Linked DNA regions of Homo sapiens: regions 2 and 3 are each linked to region 1. The links come from fine-mapping of genetic effects on gene expression. A gene starts in region 1. Each other region holds a variant in brackets. All regions are shown on one strand. Distances are between the middles of the regions.

Region 1 (5,224 bases):
GTGTGTGTGTGTGTGTGTGTGTGTGTGTGTGTCAGGGTCTTGCTCTGTCACTCAGGCTGGAGTGCAGTGGTGTGATCAAGGCTCACTGGACCCCCGACTTCCCGGGCTCAAGCAATTCTCCCACCTCTCAGCCTCCCAAGTAGCTGGGACTACAGGTGTGTACCATCACATCCAGTTACTTTTTTTTTTTTTAATAGAGATGGGGTTTTGCCATGTTGCCCCAGCTGATCTGGAACTCCTGGGCTCCAGTGATCCACCTGCCTTGGCCTCCCAAAGTGCTGGGATTATATGCGTGAGCCATGGTGCCTGACTTCTGATCAATTGTTGAGGCTCCCTCGAGCTCTGTGTGAGGGGCATCTGAAGCTCCAGCAAGACTCAGAAGGAGAGGTTGCCCTGATCAATTAATGACACCTGTATCTCTGTACCTGTTCCAGCATCTATCACAGGCCTGGAACACGGCAGGGCTTCGTTAAATATCTGTTGCATGAATAAATGAAAGATTTCCCATTCTCGATCTGCATTGGCTAACTAGGGTAACCTGCCTCCTCAATGGTTCGCTTGCTCCCATCTTAAAGTCGCATCCTAGAATTCACTTTGGCCCAGCAGGAATTCTTACGGAGTTGTCTTAATAAAGACAGAAAATGCTTCAGCGTCCAGGTCTCCCTCTCTTGGGGACCTTGGTCTGCTTCCTGCACTTCCTATGTGCCCTCTAGCACCCAGGTGGGCCAGGATTCCCTTCAGCTTCCTAAGCTGTGCTCCATCTTGACTGCCGTCCCTGGATACTCCCGCCCGTGGCCCCTTTCATGAGCCTGGCTCCTGCTCCTGCACTCTGGGACCCCTCCCCTTCTCAGAGACCCCTGCCCTGCCCTCCCGTCTTCTCTGCGGTTTCTCTTCTCTTCCTTGGCAACCCCCCAGCCTGGAGCACCCCAGAGCAAATGTAATGTACACCCAGATGGAGACTAAATCTCCTATGATATTAGTGAAATGTTGGTATGGGCATTGATTATAAATTCCATTCCATAGAGCTAACAAACTGAGCAGGAAAGACGGTAACATGCTGTCTGCTAAGCAACGAGGCACATTGGCTGTCACACGTGGAATAAGTGCAAAGGAGTCTGTGGGCCCAGACACCAAGTGTGTTGTTTTTAAGCAGAAACAACCTCTCTGTTTCTCTGAGACAACTGTGTGGACAAAGAAGAATTTCAAGGCTCTCTGCCGACTGGCCAGAATGGAGCTGCGGCTGCCAGACTCCTACCCCGGTGGGGATGGGGTAACTGACTGCCGGAAAATTTGGCTCAATTTTCCTTTAAATCATACCAGTGCTGTTCACAGATGCACAAGACACAAGGACTCTACCTTCCTGGAGCCCCTCTTCTCTCCTTGGCTCCCACGCCCCTGGTGGCATCTAAGCGGGGGTGGGACATTGACCCAGGTTCCGTGGCGGCCACCTCCACGCTCTGCATGGGCCACTCAGACGTGCAAGGCATCTGCCTGGGGCTGACGGGCAGGAATTCATTGCAACTTCCCTGGCTCTGTCCTTGGCACTTGGAGCCATTTCCTGGAATGGACGGGGAGGAAAATATTTCCCCAAATACCAAGAAGAGTTATTTTGGGTATAAAATGTACAAAATATGAGGAGGACGCTCCTTTAGCCAATGTGGAAATGTTCCCCTCAGCCCAATGTCCACAACTGCTTGGGAAGGGAAAGAACCTAAAAGCATCCACTGTTTCTCTCTTGCCTTGTCTCCCTGCCTAAGTGAGAGAAATGATCAGTGTGGCCTTCTTGTTTCTAAGGGCATTAGAACAGGAGCACTCACGTTGCTAGAAGCCTCCATATCTGGTTCTGCAGACAATCCTAATATGAAAGAGATTGGCAAAATTCCCCAGTTCCAGCTGCCCATGGCCCACCTCAGAATCCTACAGAACAAACACAACTCCGGCTGCCAGAGGTCATTCTGCACTGCAAAGGAAGAGAGCCTGTGCTCCTGGAACGGTACCACCAAGTCTCTGCTCTTCACCCACCTCCCCAAAGATCACCCTTCCAACAGAAATTAATCACCTCTTGGAAGCTGCTATTCTGAAATGACAGCCAGGCCACTTGTCTCACTTGGACCTAACTGTATTTAAGGAGTCACTTTCCCAAAGCACCACTATCTTTAAACTATAGAAACAGGAGTGTAAAGGCGATGGCACCCACAGTGAAATCCAAACCAAGCCCAGACTGAAGGAAGGCTATAGGTGAGCCTGGTGGGCCAACAGCGCGTATTTAGCAGTCCTGGCTAGAAGTTCCCTAATAACCAGTTCTGACCCCCAGAGACACCTCATTGTATGCATTGCAAAGAAGGCAATTTGCATGGCTTTGAGGACAGATCTGGTAAGACCCTGCACAATTTCTCTGGAAGATTTTGAGTCTTCCTGACACTTGTTTCCCCCCACCTCTACTCATCCTTGCCTTCCTCCCAGGCATTGGCCTTACACAGCCCCTCTCATTCAGAGGTCAGGAACTTCCCTGGAAAATGAATCCTGAATTCCTACCCGCAGAGCAAGGCAATGTCTGGGACTGAGACTGATCACTTGCATCTGCGTCTCTCCTACCCCCAACTTTATCTCCTTCAGACTGGGGTGGGACATCCTGATCTTTGGGGATGTGCCCAAGGCAATTTCCAATGCATCTCAGCTCTGCGAATGCCACCAGGTTGGTGGGTCTGACAGTCTCCCAGGGACCTGGCTGGTTCTGCAAGGTCCTGCCTTCTGGGCACCGGCACAGCCCAGCAGCAAATCCAACGCTCCCCAGCTCCCGGTAACCTTCTATCTGGCTAGAACTCGGTACAAAGCTATCATAGTCCAGAACTAAGCCATCCGCCCTGCATCCCTCCTGACTCAGTTTCCCCGGGATCCAGAGTTGTGTGGGGCCCTGTGGCCTGCCAAGAAAGACCAGCAGAGAAGGAGGAAGGAGCGCGCCGGGGCCTTACCTTGCAACCGCTGGCGCTGCGATTCCTACGGGGCTCCATGCCTGCCCGCCCCTCTTATAGCGGCCCGATCACAACTTGCGCAACTGCCCCGCAGGCCCCGGCGCATTTCTAGCGCCAGCTCCCGCCCCGCCCCTCAGGGTAGCGACGTGCCGGGCGGCTGCTAGCCCTGGGCCCGCAGTGTGCACCTCGCGGGGCCTCGAGGGAGGGCCTCGGCGCGCCAGGAGCCACGCGCGCACCCTTGGGTACCTCCCAAAAATTTGGGGGTGGCTGGTAGGAGCGAGAAATCCTTGATGTCCCTCCAGAGGCTCCGGCGCGACTATGGCGCAAGGACCAGCCCCTTGGGAAGGTGCTTCGAGCCGCGCGGGGCGCGGTCGGGGCGGGGGTGGCTGTGAGGGGCTCCGCGGAGCGGGCTGGGGCATACGGCTGCGCCCTCGTTGGTCCTGGCGCGGCTTCGGGGTGGGAGCGAATCGGGACTCGGCCCCGACGGCCCTGGACGCCAGGGAAGCCCAGGGTTAGAGGGAGCGGCCCGCAGTGCGCCAGGCTCCCCGACCCAGATTGCGGGGTTGGGGGTTCTGAAGTCCCACCCCTTCTCTGGCACGCGGAGAATCGAGTTCCAAGCCTCAGGGCAAGTTGTCTCTGGCTGGCACCCCAGGGAGTGCACGCTCTCTGGAGGGCTCCAGGCGGGCACTGTGGCCTTTGGGGACACTCTGGACATACTGTGGGTCTCCATCCTCAACTCCGTATTTCCTACGTACAAAGTGGGGGTTGGGGGGTGGTCCCAGATGTAGCCACGTTTTTGTCATCATAGCCTGTGAGTGGTGTGGTAGGCATGTTTCACCTGTATCGTTTGTAGTTCCCCGCTTTACATGATGGGTTGGTTTGTTTTGTTTTGTTTTGTTTTGTTTTACCCTTGGGCTTCAGGGATGAGGAATCTAAGGTCCAGCGAGGTTAAATGACTTTCCTTAGAATCCACAGCTGGTAAGGAATAGCAATGGGCTAGGAACCCAGGCCTATTCTGGTCCCCACTGCGCAGAGCAGCTCCAAAAACAAACCACTCCATTGAGAACCAACCCAGCCAGGCGTGGTAGCTCAAGCCTGTAATCCCAGCACTTTGGGAGGCCAAGGTGGGTGGATCACCTGAGGTCAGGATTTCGAGACCAGCCTGGCCAACATGGTGAAACCTCATCTCTACTAAAAATACAAAATTAGCCAGGTGTGGTGGTGAGTGTCTGTAATCCCAGCTACTTGAGAGGCTGAGGCAGGAGAATGGCTTGAACCTGGGAAGTGGAGGTTGCAGTGAGCCAAGATCAGACCATTGCACTACAGCCTGGGCAACAAGAGTGAAACTCTGTCTCAATAAAAAAAACAAAACAAAACAAAACCCATAACATAAAGCGGGGAACTGCAAATGACGTTGGTGAACCGAGCCTGCCACTGCCGGGTTTGGTAATGCCCAAAAGCTAAGAATGGTTTCTACATTTGTAAAAGTTTGAAAAAAAAAAATCAAAAGAAGAGGCCAGATGCAGTGGCTCATGCTTGTAATCTCAGTATCCCACGTTGGGCACCAGATATTGGGGGAACCTGCCCCCAATATTTCAACGTAGGTTCTTTCTATTTTCCATAAGTGTCAGCTGGCTGAGAAATAAAGAGAGAGAGTACAAAGAGAGGAATTTTACAGCTGGGCCGCCGGGGGTGACATCACATATCGGTAGTACTGTGATGCCCACCTGAGCCTCAAACCAGCAAGTTTTTTATTAAGGGTTTCAAAAGGTGAGGGGGTGTAAAACAGGGAGTAGATCACATGCTTCAAAGGGCAAAAAGGAGAACTACTGATAAGGGTCTGTGTTCAGCGGTGCACGTATTGTCTTGATAAACATCTTAAACAACAGAAAACAGTGTTCGAGAGCAGAAAACTGGTCTGACCACAAATTTACCAGGGCGGAGTTTTTCACCACCCTAGTAAGCCTGAGGGTACTGCAGGAGACCAGGGCGTATCTCAGTCCTTATCTCCATTGCGTAGGATAGACATTCCCAGAGCGGCCATTTATAGACCTCCCCCCAGGAATGCATTCCTTTCCCAGGGTGTTAATATTAATATTCCATGCTAGCAAAAGAAATTAGCAATATCTCTCCTACTTGCAGGTCTATTTATAGGCTCTCTGCAAGAAGAAAAATATGGCTCCCTTTGCCCGACCCCGCAGGCAGTCAGACCTTATAGTTGTCTTCCCTTGTTCCCTAAAAATTGCTGTTAT
Region 2 (5,224 bases), 24 kb after region 1:
CACCCCGTCCTCTGACTGCTCTTGTTCCTCCATCAGGCAAGACTTGCTGGGAAGCAGGAGGAGACAAAGGACCCCTCAATCCCCTGCTGCCTTGAGGATATTCTCTTTCTCTCCCTTCCTCTGTAGTTCACTCTCCAGCTCATTCCCAGGTCCTGGGTGAGCTAGCTGAAGTGGTCATGATAATACTAATAAGCTGATTTCAGAGAAGAGTTTAGTTCATTGCGCCTTTGGGAAAGACCTTGGCTGGCGCTTTGCTAGGATAACAAGCTTCAGTGAAACTAACAGGGACACTAACTCACTCCACTGCTATATTCTTATTTTATATGCTGAAGGTGTCAATAGTCACTACCATAAGTAGAATCTGCTTTTCCTCTGGCAGTGGAAAGGCTAAATTGTAAATGGTGTCTTCAGGCCTTCTCTCCCTTCTAGGACTTCTCTGAGTTCAGGGGAGGGTGGACACAGATGACTTCAAACCTTCCCCTACCCTTGGGGTCCCTGGTCAGTGTTCTCCATAGTGTATGACGGCATTTGAAACATCAGTAATGACTATCCTTTCTCTTACACCCATACCCTCTCTTTACTCATAGTATTATTTTGAGGAATACATGAAATTATAATCATTGTAACTGAGCATCTACTATGTGCCAAATCCTGTGCTAGATATTTTTAAATATTATTTCCGAACCTAATAAAAACATCGTGCCATTTTATAGATGAAGAAACTGAGACTCAAAGAAGCTAACAGATTTGCTCACAGTCAGTGAGTGTTTAGGTTTTAGCTCATGTCTTTTAATCTCTATTTTTTAAATTGTTATTTTATTTTTTTAAAAAGTAAAATAAAATGGAGTCTCACTATGTTGCCCAGGCTGGTCTCGAACTCCCAGGCTCAAACCATCCTCCCACCTTGGCCTCCCAAAATTCTGGGATTACAGGCGTGAGACATCGTGCCCAGCATTTTAAACTCTAAGGCTCACATTTTTCTACTACACTACCATGTTATATAAAACATGGCATCAGACAGCACAAAATTAGGTTGTGCTGCAGTTATAGGCAGCCTGAAAATCTTGGTGGCTTACAACAACAAAGTTTTACTCCATCCTCACGTGCAATGCATGATACACACGCCTCATGTCTCTTCTCGGAGCTCGGTTTCCTAGTATTCCAGGATTCCAGCTGGTGATGGAAGAGCCACCAGACTGTTGCCAGTTCCCATGCTAGAGGGAGAGGGAGCTCTGGAGGGTCTAAAACTATCAGCGAAATGCCCTGGCATTCAGTTGGTACATGTCACTTCTACCCACAACCCATTGGCCAGAATTTTACATTACTCTTCCAAACCACAAGAGGGAGGAAGTGTAATCCCCCTGGACAGCTGAGAATAAAAAGTACATGGCGAGCAACACTAAAACCTGCCACGAGTGTCTGGCACTGGGCTTGGCCCCTACATGATTAATAAACGCTATTTCACGCCCCCTTTCCTTCCCCAGCTATGAACAGATTATGGTGAAATCATTCATTTTGGACCAAGAGACAGGCATAATGAACAGGCCCTCCATTCTGTACTCTTCCTGGTTTGCACCTGCGTCATAGGATGCTGGCTCAGATTTCTCCAGGGCCTGAGTCTCCAGTGCCTTGATGTCCGACCATGTCTCAGGGGTTTCCATCAGTCATTCTCAAGTGCTGTGTTGCAGATGATAAATGACATTCACATGCACAACACATGACACCCTCCCATGGGCATCCAACAGGGTCAGGGCTACAGGCAGTCTCTGTCCGGCAGCTGTAATTCCACCACTTCTTCCTTTCAGGGAGGCATATCGGATTGCAACTAAGCAGCAGGGGCATTACTATAGGACCATATTGAATCTGTTCTAATTGATTAAAAAAAAGTCATCAACGATTTGAGAACCTCAACAGTTCATTATCCATAGCCAACTGCCTAGGACACACCTCCTAAGTGCTCCAGGCATACAGCATGTCAGGATACCACCATTGAAGAAGCACTGGTCAAGAAGAAGCCGGAGCAACCAGTTGTAAAATGAAAAGAAGTGCCAATTTGTCTACAGCGTGCCAAAGAATTGATTGGAAGAACATTTTGTCCATACTCACTGAATTAGCTAGTTGTCTTGGCACTGTGTAGACACAGCCTGAGTATTAAGAATGTGAGCATAGTATCAATCATCAAACCACAGAATGTTAGACTGGAAGGAATCTCCAGAGATATTTTTCATACATTCCCCTCATGTCACAGATGAGGAAACTAAGGAACAGGCAGGCTAAAAGATTTGCTTAAGGACATGTAGCACAATTGTCAACTGTTGTTTTAGAAAAGAGGTTAATGTGGGCACATCTTCACCCACTGCATTTTTAACATTTTCTTTAGCTATTTCAGAATCAAGATGCCCACTGAATGTCATTGCGTACTTTTTCTAAAAGTAGACAAGAATTTGAGAAACACCCCGTGATGCAATGGTTCATTGCTTAAACTTGCTGCTGACTCATTTGCCCTCCACCATTTTTTCCCCCAACTTCTCTCTTGGCATC[T/C]GGCACTTCCACTGGCTCTTTTCTCCAGCTTGTCCCATTCTCCTGGTCTGGGCTGGGCAACAGGATGCAGTGACGTCATGTCCGCGCGTCCTCATTGGGTGGTAGGCGGGGCTCAGAGGTGAGGTCCCTTGGTGAATCGCCCTGGGCGCCTGAGTAGGCCTCCTGGCCTCCAGGCTGAAGCAAGCCACCTGCTGCCCAAAGGGCAGACTGTTCTGGGCCAAAAGGAGTCTGTGGAACAAGGACGCCAAGATGTTCATGCTTTATCGTTTTCCTTTTTGGGATACGGTCTCACTCTCTTGCCCAGGCTGAAGTGCAGTGGTGTGATCATGGCTCACTGCAGCCTCGTTCTCCTGGGCTCAAGAGATCCTCCCACTTCAGCCTCCTGAGTAGCTGGGACTACAGGTGTGCACCACCATGCTTGGCTAATTTTTAATTTTTTGTTGTTGTTGATACAGGGTCTCCCTATGTTGCCCAGGCTGGTCTTAAACTCCTGGCCTCAAGCAGTCCTCCTGCCTCAGCCTCCCAGAGTGCTGGGATTACAGGCAAGAAACTCACACCCAACCAGGTTTCATCTTTTTGATAAAGGACAAATGCCCCCCTCCAAACAAACAACTCCTGTAGGTCACACTTCAAGTGTTTGCTGGGGGAGAAATCCCATCCAAAAATAGTCTTTCTGTTGGAAAGAAAGAAAGGAGTAGTGGCTCACTCCTGTAATCCCAGCACTTTGGGAGGCCAAGGCAGGAGGATTGCTTGAGCCCAGGAGTTTGAACCAGCCTGGGCAACATAGCAAGATCCCTTCTCTACAAAAAAATTTAAAAATTAGCCGGGTGTGGTGGTGTGTGCCTGTGGTCCCTGCTATGGGGAGGCTGAGGCAGGAGGATTGCTTGAGCCTCGGAAGTGGAGGCTGCAGTGAGCTGTGATTGCACCACTGCACTCCAGCCTGGGTGACAGAGTGAGACCCTATCTCAAAAAAACCCTAAAAAACAAACAAAAAACACAAAAATAGTCTTTGGGTCAGGGCCCTCCCTACTCTCGCTTAACTGTGAATTGTGCTTTTTCATTCACTTCAGGTTCCTGCCTCTTGAAATGTCTTTGGTTTGAGCTAGGCAACTTTGTGGTGGTCCCTTGAATCCCTATCCCCCTCCTTATCCCCCCATCCCCTTTTCTCAAGTCAACTTCAGAGGCCTTGGAGGCTCCTGCTTCAGGGCCTGTGAGGGAAGGAATTCCAGACAACTTCTGTATGGTCCTGGGGCTGAGGAATCGGCTCAGTGGCCAAGATATAGGCTCTCCACTGTCACTGCCCAGTCTAGGATTTTGGCAGCTCTCCCAACCCCACAGGCCCAGATGCAGGAGGAATCTTTGGCATGGACAGAGAGCTCTTAGGCCTGGGGCCAAAAGTCAGCCCTTTACCCCAGATGAACACATGGGGCTGCCCCTCCTCTGCACAGAGTACCTCTTTCCCTCACCCCTAGGTTTACACAGCTTAGAGAAGTGTCTGGAGTCTGGTGGGTTTGGGGAGCAGGGAAGATGGAGCCACAGAGTAATGTCCTGGGACAACTCCCCCTTGACCCCCAACAAATAAGAGGGGGAGGAAAGGACCTATAGCTTGAGAGTGGATTCTGGGTCACACTGGTTACCCCTCTTTCCTGGGTTTGATGCATCATTTAAAAGATGCTATGGAAAGTCTTGTCCTTCCAGTTCTTTCTTGTTGGCTTTGGTACAAAGCTACAAACACAGACACACACACACATACACACACATACCCGACTCCATCCTGTAACACACATACCAGTCATTTCTTCTTGGCCACTAGGTCAGATTCTGGAAAACCCTAGTTGTAGAAGAATTTATGGCTAAAGAATTTAAGACTTTAAGGGAAAGTAGAATTGGAGAACAAAGGTCGGGAACGAACTAGAGAAAATCCTTATAATTGGTTTTGCATTCAGAAGAGAGCCCAATCCAAGAGCACACTGAATAAATAACATTTTCAGTTGTTTTGTCTGCTGCTGGCACAAGCGTGAACTGGCTCAGCCAAGCTAGCGAGTAAATTGACAGCATGTCTAATAACTGGAACGCATCTTCCCTGCGGCCCAGCAACACCACTTGTAGGGGTCTACTCTACAGAAGCATGTTCAAGGATGTCCACTGCAGAATCATTTGTGATGGTGAAAAACTGGAAACAAATGTCTATTAGTAGGTGAGTGGATGGATTGTGGTATCTTTGTACAGTTTCATGTTATTCAGCAGTAAAAATGAATGTATCATGCATCAACATGGACCGATCTTGGAAACACAATTTAGCTGAAAAAAAAGTAGGTTCCAGAATGGTGGGTTTAGTGTGACATCACTTACATAAATTAAGAAGCACTCAAAGCAATGCTAGGTGTAATTTACGAGTAATACATATATGGTAAAGTATGAGCACCAGTGTGAGAATACCTACCAACTTCAGGACAGTTGGAGGAAGGAAAAGGGGCACAAAGACTTCAACTGTGTCTGTAAGGTTTTTTCTTTCTTTCTCTCTCTCTCTTCCTTCCTTCCTTCTTTCTTTTTTCTTTCTTTCTTTCTTTTTTTCTTCCTTTCTTCTTCTTTTTCTTCCTTTTTTCTTTTTTTCTTCCTTTCTTCCTCTTTTTCTTCCTTTTTTCTTTCTTTCTTACTTTCTTTCTTTCTTTCTCCTTTCTTC
Region 3 (5,224 bases), 22 kb before region 1:
TGGACCCGAGATCTTCAGGCCTCGGCAGCCTGGCCCAGCAGGAAGACATTGAAGCTCACCAGGAGGTGGCAGGGAGTGTCCCTGGGGGAAGCTGCTGAGGCCAGTGCTCAGGAAGGAACCAGGGCTCTGTCTGAGGACCAATTCCATCCGGGCCTGGTAAGGGACATGTGGCTGTCCAGTGTGAATGTTCTGTGCTTGTATATTTCAGCCTAAATTCCCAGTTCTTTGGCAACCTGAATACTGAACGTTTTCAGAGTAGTTTTTCTCCCAAGGCGTTTGTTCTGGATCACTAGTGTCTGGTATATATCATTTTTGATTCAACATATTTAAAACTCATTTCCCCCCCAGACAAGACAAATAGAATTTGTAGCTTTCCATATGGGCTTTTCAAAAAGATTGGTACTGGGAGCCATTGGCTTCCCGGAGTGGTGTCATTTGATTAGCCCTGGTGTTCTTCCACTTACGGGGAGTGGGTAATTGCAGTTGTTCCAAGTGGGAGATGGTGTGATTGGGTTTTTCTCCTATGGGGAAAAACAAATCCTATCAGATAGATGAGTTTCTGGCATTTCCTATTCTTCTTTGTGACAGGATCTTCCAGAATAGAAGTCTCCCAGCAGTGCACATCCAGGAAGCATCCAGGCCAGGTTGGGCAGGGTTTAATAAGCGCTGGGCCTTTCACCTGGATGCTGGGAAGGTGCTTGGATCTATGAAAACCCCAGGGTGGGGTCAGGGGCCAATGCAGAGGTTTCCCAGAGAGCTCTGGGGCTGGGTCACTTCCCCACTGGCCAGTCTGTCATGCTGAATGCCCAGGACTTCCACAATGAGTCCCAGAGGTGAGATGACAGGGTCAGGGTCAGGGCCCACTTCTGCAGGAGTTGCCACTTACCTTGTTTGTTAGGACACAGGCAGAGTGTTGGAACAGAGAGGATTGCCTGGAGGTTCCTAGGACCACAGCAAGAGGTGTTGTGGGGGGCTTCCCGGCTTCCCGGAGGCCCTTCTTCCCATGACAGGAGGGACAGTGGAGATAGCACCTACTCTGGTGACCTTGCTCTCTGCTTTTGTCTTGTGACCTGCTTGTGGGTGAGCCCTACCCCTTGGTTTCCACGTGACCCATAAAGTCTACTCATTTTCTGTCCAGGGTTCAGGCACAGAGAGAAAAGGCAAGGATGTGGAGGGAGAGGAGAGTCCCTGGAAGGAATGTCCCCAGCATATCAGCCTGGAGTTTCCATTCAGGAAATTTCCCCAGCTCCCCAGACCCTCCCAGACTTGCCTCCTCCCTCCTGACAAAGCCCCAGCCCTACCCATAGCCCCAGCCACCACCCCCTTTGAGGAGAGAAGGTGCTGGGTTGGGTGAGGAGCTCTGCGGGAGGACTGAACCAAGCTGTGGGCTCCTGGGCACCTGCCCATGAGCCAGGCCTGCATCTCCCAGACCTGCTTGTGGGTGAGCCTGCATGCTGACATGCTTGGCTGGGCTCTAGCCTTGGCTATTGGTGGCCCAGGGTGTGTGTGTGTGTGCGTGCATGTGTGTGTGTGTCCCTTTGGAGCTATGTAGTTTGTGTACCAAAATAAGAAGGGAGCTGGGGAGTTGAGCCCTGATGAACTTTGTAACAATAAAGCCTTATCTTGTTAAATAAATCAAGCCTTGAATAAATGCCTGCTTATTCCTTGCCAATATTTTCCTGCTACCTAAGGCAACATAGCTCTGTGACCTGTAACCAGTCACTTAACCTCTCTGGGTCTATTTCCATATCTATAGAAAGTGGATATAATACTATTTGTTCTCCTCAATGCTGCTTATTGTAGAGATCAAATGTAATAACGTGTGTGAAAGTGCTTTATAGATGGCAAGGTGCTGTTCTGCTGTAAGGAATCCTTCTGATCATTACGCTTTTTGTAAAGCAATCAGAACAGCCATCCCTACAACATAAGGTGTCAACAACACGACCTCCATTAAAAGGGAAGAAAAAAAGAACAAATTTCCCAGTGGAAAAGAATGACCCCCCGACAAAGCAGAAAGACCAGTAAAATAACCCCAATGAGAGCAATAACAATTTGGATGACTTAATATCAAGCCCCAATCCACTATAACCAGTAACAAAAATGTTCTTCATACTTATCAGAAGCAGTTGTCAGAGCCAAGGACAATCACTCCACCCTTTTCTAAGTCCGGGGTCAAACATTATTTTTTATTTGATGCCGTGTGGTTGAAGTTAAGAGCCAGTCAGAGCTGGTTTTGGTTCTCAATACAAAAGTAAAGGGTCAAAGGGAGTGAGTCTCTTCCTTCTCTCAGAAAGAAATCCAGACTGAGACAAGGTTCCAGAAAGCTGTCAGGAATCAGACAGGCCAGGAAAGAAAGGCTCAGAGCATTCCTGGAGGAAATCTGTTGTTTCTTCCT[T/C]CCCAAGACCCATTTCTCCTGCTTTTTGGTAACACACCCTCTTTTCCTTTGGGAAACTACCCTATCCCCATTCTCATTCCAAGTGCAATTGACCCCTTCCTTGGTTCGACTCAAATCTAACCAATCAGAGTACTGCATTTTCCTGGTCCCAGTGATTGGCTCAGCAATAGACATGTGATTCAAGCCAGACCAATGGGAGTCAGCTCTGGGGCTTTTGCCGGAACATTTAGGAAGGAGAGCTCTTTTTCCTGGGGAGTTGCCAACCTGGAAGGTATAGGACTGGAGTTTTTGATGATCACTTTTGCCACCGTCTAAGAATAAAGCCAATGCCAAAGGAAACAAAGCTGAGATGGAGAATGATTCCCGTTGACATGGTTTGAATACTGGTTCAACTGCATAGGAAAAGCAAGGCAAGTGAGGGTAAGCAAGTTTAGGATTGGCTAGTTTGAGTAATTTCAGTGGGCTCTGGAGCATGGGGGCTGGCTCTAGTTGTCTGGTACCTGGCCCTGGGAAGATTAGGGTAGGGGATAGTGGCCCTGAGTATGACAGCCCAATAGAGGAGGTGGTTGGGGTGTGGGCTCTAGATTGGTTGGTTTGCATTTGAAAGGTATGCACCCCTTGAGCTGTTTGCTATCTCTGGGAATTAGCTAACCCTGGGAGGATCGGTCCCTGCAGTGTCAGTGAGGTTCCAAGATGTCACAGCATCAGAAAATATAGGAAAAAAAAAAAGACCAACTAATACAGCTGGGATGGCTGGGGCTGGGGCCTCTCTCCACAGGGTCGCTTATCCTCTTGGAGGCTAGTCTGGGCTCCTTCGCATAGTGGCTGAAGATTTCCCTGCAGCGAGAGAGGACAAGCCCCCATGGGCAAGCACTTTTCCAACCTTTGCTTGTGTCTTGTTTGCTGTTGTCCCACTGTGGCAAGCAGGTCACGTGGCCAAGCCCAGTGTCAGTGTTGTGGGGAGCCTACATCGAGGGCGGACACCAGAAGGCAGGGGTCACACCTGGGCGCCATTGCCACAGCAATCTGCCCACAGCCTGCCCCAGCTGGCCCTCCTATCGGAGAGTAGTTCTGATGGTACGACTAAGCCAAAGCTTGCCTTCTGCCACATTCTACCTGTTGATCCCCAATCTCCCTCCAGTCTTGTCCACATGACAGGACTTTGGCAACCATATCTGGCTTGGAATCCTCTAAGTGGACAGACTGCTGAGCATTCCACTTCCCCTCATGCCACTTCTTTGTACCCAAATGCAAAGGGGACATGGGGCATCAGCTCTTGAGGTTAGAGACCCATTCAGCCAACAGGTTGTACCTACTCTGTGTAAGGATCTAGCCTAGATGCTGGGGATCTAGCGGGAAACAAAACAGACCAAAAGACAATCCCTGCCTGCTGGGAGCCTACATTCTTTTTTTTTTTGAGATGGAGTTTCGCTCTTGTTGCCCAGGCTGGAGTGCAATGGCGCAATCTCGGCTCACGGCAACCTCTGCCTCCCAGGTTCAAGCGATTCTCCTGCCTCATCCTCCCGAGCAGCTGGGATTACAGGCGCCCACCATCATGCCCGGCTAATTTTTTTGTATTTTTAGTAGATACATGTTGGCCATGCTGGTTCTAAACTCCTGACCTCAGGTGATCCACGTGCCTCAGCCTCCCAAAGTGTTGGGATTATAGGAGTGAGCCACTGCGCCTGGCAGAGCCTACATTCTTATGGGGTAGATATTAATAAACAAATGTACAAGTAAAATATATGAAAATGAAGACGAGTGGATGGGATGAGGAACAGGAAAAAAATGACTATGATTTTTTTTTGTTGTTGTTGTTGAGACGGAGTCTCCCTGTGTCACCCAGGCTGGAGTGCAGTGGCGAGATCTTGGCTCACTATAGCCTCTGCCTCCCAGGTTCAAGTGATTCTCCCACCTCAGCCTCCCAAGTAGCTTGGATTACAGGTATGTGCCACCACTCTTGGCTAATTTTTGTATTTTTAGTAGAGACGGGGTTTTGCCATTTGGCCAGGCTGGTCTCGAACTCCTGACCTCAGGTCATCCACCCACCTTGCCCTCCCAAAGTGCTGGGATTACATTTGTGAGCCACCGCACCCAGCCACAATGACCATGATTTAAAGAGCTCTTCATCTCAGAGAAGGAGCAGGACAGGAGACTAATGGAGGGGGCTTCCGGCAGTGCTGGTGGGGAAGGTGGGCAGACCTGTGGGTGAGCCCTGGAGCCAGTTCTGTGTGTGTGTGCATATGTGTGTGTGTGTGTGTGTGTGTGTGTGTGTGTACAGTCAACCCAGGCTGTAAGCTCCTCAACTTTAGGACACTTCCCAGCACTTTGGGAGGGTGAAATGGGAGGATCACTTAAGGCCAAGGGTTTGAGACCAGCCTGGGCAACATAGCAAGACCCCATCTCTAAAAAAAAAAAAAACTTAGCCAGGCATGGTGGCATGTTCCTGTAGTTCCATCCATTCAGGAGTCTGAGGTGGGAGGATCGCTTGAGCCCAGGAGTTTGAGGCTGCAGTGAGCTATAATGGCACCACTGCACTCCAGTCTGGGTGACAGAGTGAGACTCCATCACTAAACCAAACAAATAAGCACAATAAGAACAAACAAAAAACAACATTAGGATAGAGACATGGCCTGCAAGTGCATTTCCTAATGGATGTCCCTCTGGGGAGAGGTGGGGATGGGTGGGCAAGCAGAAAACGGCTGGAAATCTCTGTGTGTATGTGTTTGGGGCACAGATGGGGCAAGTAAAGAAATATCTATCAATCTCTGTCTTTGTATTTCTACATGTATATATATGTCACCTGGGCATTGCAAGTCAGGTTCTAAT

What was found.
Region 2: its variant is fine-mapped to the expression of LEP in whole blood (TOPMed, PIP above 0.99).
Region 3: its variant is fine-mapped to the expression of LEP in whole blood (TOPMed, PIP above 0.99).

What each region holds. Positions count from the first base shown.
Region 1 is chr7:128,239,055-128,244,278 of GRCh38, reverse strand. LEP (leptin) reads right to left here and starts at 3,001. Exons shown (of 3, transcript NM_000230.3): 1 at 2,973-3,001. RefSeq lists cis regulatory regions at 3,047-3,055, 4,547-4,952, promoters at 2,973-3,219, 2,973-5,224 and enhancers at 4,875-4,910, 4,888-4,947, 4,547-4,952.
Region 2 is chr7:128,214,591-128,219,814 of GRCh38, reverse strand. The region is part of intron 1 of LOC124901744 (a long non-coding RNA gene); the gene reads right to left. Among named protein-coding and RNA genes, the nearest start is that of MIR129-1, 9.3 kb to the right of the region's middle. The variant T/C (reference allele first, on the strand shown) is at 2,542.
Region 3 is chr7:128,260,953-128,266,176 of GRCh38, reverse strand. No RefSeq gene overlaps it. Among named protein-coding and RNA genes, the nearest start is that of LEP, 22 kb to the right of the region's middle. RefSeq lists an enhancer at 3,380-3,880. The variant T/C (reference allele first, on the strand shown) is at 2,396.